Regions from separate parts of the Homo sapiens genome. Here region 1 is linked to region 2. The links come from fine-mapping of genetic effects on gene expression. A gene starts in region 2. The other region holds a variant in brackets. All regions are shown on one strand. Distances are between the middles of the regions.

Region 1 (2,921 bases), 61 kb before region 2:
TCTGAAACTACCATTCTGCTACTAGGAGGGGAGCCTGGAGCCACCAGAGGGTCTCTGGGAGCTTAAAGGTAAAATAACACCATGGAAGGCAGAGCAGTAAAACCGAGACACCCGGGGAACATTAGCTGAGTCTCTGGATTAAGCCTCACTTTAAGCAAGTCCTCCTCCCCAGCCTTTTGCTATGAAAATTTTTATAAGTACCAAGAGATTAAAAGCTTGATTTAATGAACATCTGTATACCCTCTAATGAAAATTTTTTAAAGTACCAAGAAATTAAAAAGTTTATTCCGTGAACATCTGTATACCCTCTACCTAATTTAGCAATTGTTAGTATTTTGCCATATTTAAGTCATATTTTTAAGCTAGTTTGCATTAGTTTTTTCTGTCACTTCCAACCAAGAAACCTACCAATTTCCAATTTTCACATACCACCATCACAGTTTTCCATGTCAATCACAACCTGTACTGTTATTTGATTAGTATTATTATTTTACTTGCTTTGTTTGAGAATGTATATTAAAAGAAACTTTAATCACAACCTTAAATTATATAAATAATGGGTTTGATATGTTAGTTGCATTTTTTCTAAAGTACATTCAAATAAACCTTTGATTATTGAAATTAAATATTCATTTACTCATCAACTAAAACCATCTTACCATCTGAGTGGGCTATCACCCCAGCAGAGTGGCCCTTCTGACTCACTCTGTCCATACCCTCTGAACCTTTGCATAAGACATTCCAAATTCTGTCCACCTTACCTTTCTATACTGATTGAGTCACCTCCACCTTGAGGCCTTCCCAGATTAAACACAACAGACCCTGGTCACTCTGTGGCCCCTGTGCTCAAGCCACCTTGCTATCCTTCAAACCTACTTCCCCCATCTCATGGTCTTTGCATTTACTGTCCCCTCTGCCTGGAGAGCTCCTACCCACATATTTCCATAGCTCAACCCACACTTCATCTCAGGGTCCTTTTCTCTGACACCTTCCCCAACAACAGCTCCAATCCCTCCAGACTCTCTTCATCTGCTTATCTTAGTATATACCTTGGGGCAGGGTTCTCAGTGTGGGCTGAATGAATGCACCGCTCCAGGATCCCCTCAGTCCTAGAGTCTGCACAGACCTTGAGTGGTCTATAATGCCACTGAGAGAGCAGGTGCCACAATTAATCCAATATTCCAGCTAACTGAGCACATACCGTCTCCCAAATGTGTGCCCAAGTCTTACCCAGGCTTCAAGGCCAGCTCAGATGCCACCTCCTCCCGAAAGCCTTATCTGATTCCCCCAGGCCACCTCCTTCCCCTCTGAATTCCCAAGCAGTTTATCTGCCCCTCTCTTATGCTATCTACCTTCTTCAATCACGTATAATTACAAAAACATGTGCCTGTTTCTCCCTTTTTCCACCAGACTATGAACTTCTTGTAGGTGAAGACCGTGCTTGATTATTCTCTACAAACAGATAAGTTCGTGTTACACCATTAAACCTCAACAACAATCACAGGACTTGTTTGCTTGTTTGTTTCAACATTTAGGGGGCAAATCTATGGCATGAGTAGTGAAGGAAGTTCTATTATTTAGAAAGCTATTGTT[C/A]CTCATTATTTTGTTAAAGATAGATATTTGTTTGGAAGTGAAAGAAATAACATAATGCAAGATGTGTTTGCACAGTAATGCACCTTATCATTAAATGTATGTATACATATGTCCATATATATATACACAATATATACAAGGTCTTTAAAGTTTACAAACATTTTTCCTATCATTTACATTTTTCATTCTTATAAATGAAAGAATGGTTCAGCAGGTTCTGGAGGCTCAGAGAAATACGTCCATCGAACAATGTGCTCTCTGATGCTTTTGAAGATGATGCCACTCCCAGACGCTCCATTCTTTCCCTGCTCCCCACCACCCCTGTGGTTCCATCATTCTCAAATGGCAGCAGAAGGACTCACTGGCTGATGAAGTCTTCAGTTTTTCCATAGACATGGATGGAGCTCAGGCCTTGCAGAGAATTGAGGATGTGGGAGAATAAAGGAGACCGGCTATAGTTCTCCAGTCTCTTGAACACACCGATGGCCTTCTTGAACATCCTGCATGGACAGTGGAGGTAAGGGACCTGGACCGTCCACCTCTGGGACCATCTAGTCTGGGTTGGTCCCAGCCTTGCTCCCCAAGTCACAAGCAAAAAGAACCTACTCACATATAATAAATGAAGCAAATAACCATGATTATGGCTCCCATTAACAGGATATATGGAGACAGCACACTGACAATCAACAGGACGGCGATCACCATTAAGGACAGGACCAGGAACTGCTCTGAAAAGATGGGCAAGAGCTGGTCCAGCTGTTCCAAGTCCCCTGCGAAGCAGTTCAAAAGCCGGCCTATTGGGATGGTGTCAAAGAAACTCATGGGGCAGCGGAAAACCTGCAGGGACAAAATCAACGCAGACCATGAGAGAAGCTGCAGGCCCTGCTCAAGATTGGATGAAGATGCCTGTTACCCTTGACTCTAAAGAGCCACGGATCCCAGGGGTCTCCAGGGCAGGCAATGTAGAGCAATGATTTAAAAGCATGGATGGGCTCCACGGCTACCTGACTCCTCCACCTACTGCTGTCTGACCTCGGGCAAGTACTGAGTTCCTCTGAGTCTCAAGGTCCTCGTTAGCGAAATGGGAATGAAAACGATGCTTCACAGAGTTGTAGTGAGGATCACACAACTCCTCAAATATACTAAACACTGAAGTGTATAATTAAAAGGCTGAATGTATGGTATATGAATTATATCCTGTAAAGCTATTAGAGAGAGAGAGAATACATTAAAAATGCTCAGAGCAGTGCCTGCCCCTGAGGTAGGAGGTGAGACTTGACTCTGGAGGCAGGGTTTGAACGCCAGACCAAATTGAGGACTAGCTAAAA
Region 2 (2,921 bases):
ATTAGGGGTTCCTGACTCTGAATGGATTTCCGGAGGGTTGGACATGTCTTATTTTTCCTCAAAATCTTGTGACTATGTACATTTTTTTAGGAGAATCCTTTGCTTTCTTCAGATTCTCAAAGGAGACTGGTACCTCCCCCCACCCCCGTTAAAAGAAAGCAAAACAAAGCAACAAAGACCAACAAACCTTCCACAGCAGCCCAGTATTCATTTATATTGTAAAAGCCTTGATTTTCTCAAGCATGGAAAATATTTTGGCTCCCATCTGACCTGCTTTGGTTATTGCCTGAGTGGAATTGGTCACATTCCAAGTTTCAGTACTCTTTGATAAATTGTATTGGATTCTAGTTTCCCAACATACGACTCTGCTCCTTCTGCTTACTTTTCCCAAATTATTTTGCCTTCTGTGCCCAGGCACACTTAGTTCCCTGTCTAGGCAAGAGTGGTCATTATTAGACTTCATTTTCTTTCTACTGTGCATATGTATTGATTAGCCATGGGCACATTGTGAACTTGAAAAGTCGATTTAGTCACATTTTAAGTTTCACTATTTGTTGGTATTATTCTGGCAAGATTTTGGAAGGTTTTTATTATTTATTCATTTGTGTATTTTTTGAGACAGAGTCTCATTCTGTCTCCTCCGCTGAAGTGCAGTGGCGTGATCGTAGCCCACCGCAACCTTGATTGAACTCCTGGGCTCAAGTGATCGTCCTGCCTCAGCTTCTGGAGTGGCTGGGACTATAGGCGTGCACCACTACACCCAGCTAATTTTTAAATTTTTTGTAGAAATGGGGTCTCACTATGTTGCTTAGGCTGGTCTCAAACTCCTGGACTCAAGCTATCCCCTGCTTTGGCCTCTGGAGTAGCTGGGACTATAGGCAAGCGCCACCATACCCTTCAGGTTTTTAATTTATTTTATGAAAATCCCTCCAAAGCAACAATCCTCAATTCTCCTGCTTGAAAGTAATCACTAATAATCAGGTACTGTGTGATCTGATCCTTGATGTTCATATTATTGCCTTTAACTGAGTAGCAATGTTAAAATTTAATCATTTAAATTAGAAAACATATATTGAAAAGTCTTCATAGAAGTCCGGCATTATAAGAACTCATCAGACCATCTAGTTATCCTAGAAGTATTGTTTGCTACTTAAAAAGCCTATGTGGAAAGATTGTACCATATTCCTTGGTAATAGTTTCCAATGTCTTTTTTTCTCTAATAGGGCCTTTAAAACACTCTACTTAAAAAAAAAAAAAAAAAAAGGCTTTAACAATACCAATACTGAGTAATCCATAGCATTAGCCTGTTTCCACGCACAAGTCTGTCCTTCCCCAGTTACCTGCTTTTCTGTATGGTAGCCCAGAGGCCAGAAGAGGGGCTCTGTTCCTTTCTCTTGTTTCCTTTGCGCTATCCAGGTGACGCTGGCACAGCCTTCAAAGAGCAGCAGAAGTAATTTGCTCCCAGCGTTCTTTGCCACACAGAGTGGCAGGATTAGATGTTGACTTACCTCTGCCACTTCCTTGGTGGTTTTGAGTAGTACAGTCCCTTTCTGCACGTTAGTGTGCAGGCATGTTGCCTGCAGGAGCCTTTTTAAAGGAGGAGCTTTGGACTTGTCCTGCAGTATAGAACTTGGCTGGCATGCTGACCCAGGGCACCCTGCATTTTTCTGCTTAGTAGAACTGCATTTTTAGTGCTTCCTGAGTGACCCATTGTTTTCTTAGTGAAAAGGGGTCATAATTTAGTACTACCTGTACAATATCCTTTCAAGCATTTCAAGATGGTCATCCAGCTTTCTTCCAAATTTACACTTTTCAGGGTACATGGCTTCATTTCCTCATAGTGCCGACTTCTCAGTCTCCCTCACCAGGCTGGTGTCAAACTTGTGAGCTCAAGTGATCCTCCTGCCTCTGTCTCCCAAAGTGTTAGGATTACAGGCGTGAGCCACCATGCCTGGCCTATGTTTATAATTCTTGTAGGTAGAAGTGGTACCTATTGTCCATTGTAATGAGAAAAAAGTAAAATTTGTCTTAAAATATAATTAAGGAACTCAATTTATTAAATTTAAATTTATCCTTTAAATTTTAAATTTAAATTTATTTCTTAAATTTATTTCTATTACATTTTCTTGTAACCATGTACACCTAAGTTGTTCTACTTTAATTTTTTTGAGACAGGGTCTCACTCTGTCACCCATGCTGGTGCAGTGGTGCCATCTCAGCTCACTGCAACCTTTGCCTCCCAGGTTCAAGTGATCCTCTCACCTCAGCCTCCTGAGTGTCTGGGATTACAGGCATGTGCCACAATGCCTAGCTATTTTTTTTTTTTTTTTTTGGTGGAGACGGGGTTTTGCCATGTTGCGCAAACTGGTTTCGAACTCCTGAGCCCAAGTGATCCACTTGCCTCGGCCTCCCAAAGTGCTGGGATTATAGGTGTGAGCCACCATGCCATGTTCTACCTTTTTGAATCTCATTTACTCACTTGTAATAAGGAAATAATACTACCTTCTTCATGGGGTGAAGGGAGGTATAAAATGAAGTATACATATGAAAGCCTTTTGAAACTGCAAAGCATTCTAAACCTATATCCAAATGGGTAGTTTTAAATGTAGATTTTCACAAAAGGGGATTAAAGAGAGGAGTGGGGAGGCCCCATATTATTCCAACACGGGCTGAACTGAACTAACATCATTGCAGGAAGGTCTTGGAAGATTAAAGATTCCAAGAAAAATTAAGGGCTTTGAGTAAAAAAATTTTTTAAAAGTGGCTGGGCCTGGTGGCACGTGCCTGTACTCCCATCTACTCATGATGCTGAGGCGGAGGATTACTTGAGCCCAGGTGATCGAAGCTGCAGTGAGCTATAATCGTACCACTGCACTCCAGCCTGGGTGACAGAGCAAGATTCTGTCTATAGGAAAAAAAAA

The links. PIP is the estimated chance that this variant, and not a neighbour inherited with it, causes the effect.
Region 1: its variant is the best candidate, but not a certain one, in a credible set for the expression of ABCC11 in nasal epithelium (TOPMed, PIP 0.72).

The regions. Positions count from the first base shown.
Region 1 is chr16:48,184,998-48,187,918 of GRCh38, forward strand. It overlaps ABCC11 (ATP binding cassette subfamily C member 11), which reads right to left. Exons shown (of 30, transcript NM_001370497.1): 21 at 2,204-2,430; 22 at 1,956-2,093. Among named protein-coding and RNA genes, the nearest start is that of ABCC12, 30 kb to the left of the region's middle. The variant C/A (reference allele first, on the strand shown) is at 1,594.
Region 2 is chr16:48,245,974-48,248,894 of GRCh38, forward strand. ABCC11 (ATP binding cassette subfamily C member 11) reads right to left here and starts at 1,566. Exons shown (of 30, transcript NM_001370497.1): 1 at 1,341-1,566. The region is part of intron 1 of LONP2 (lon peptidase 2, peroxisomal); the gene reads left to right.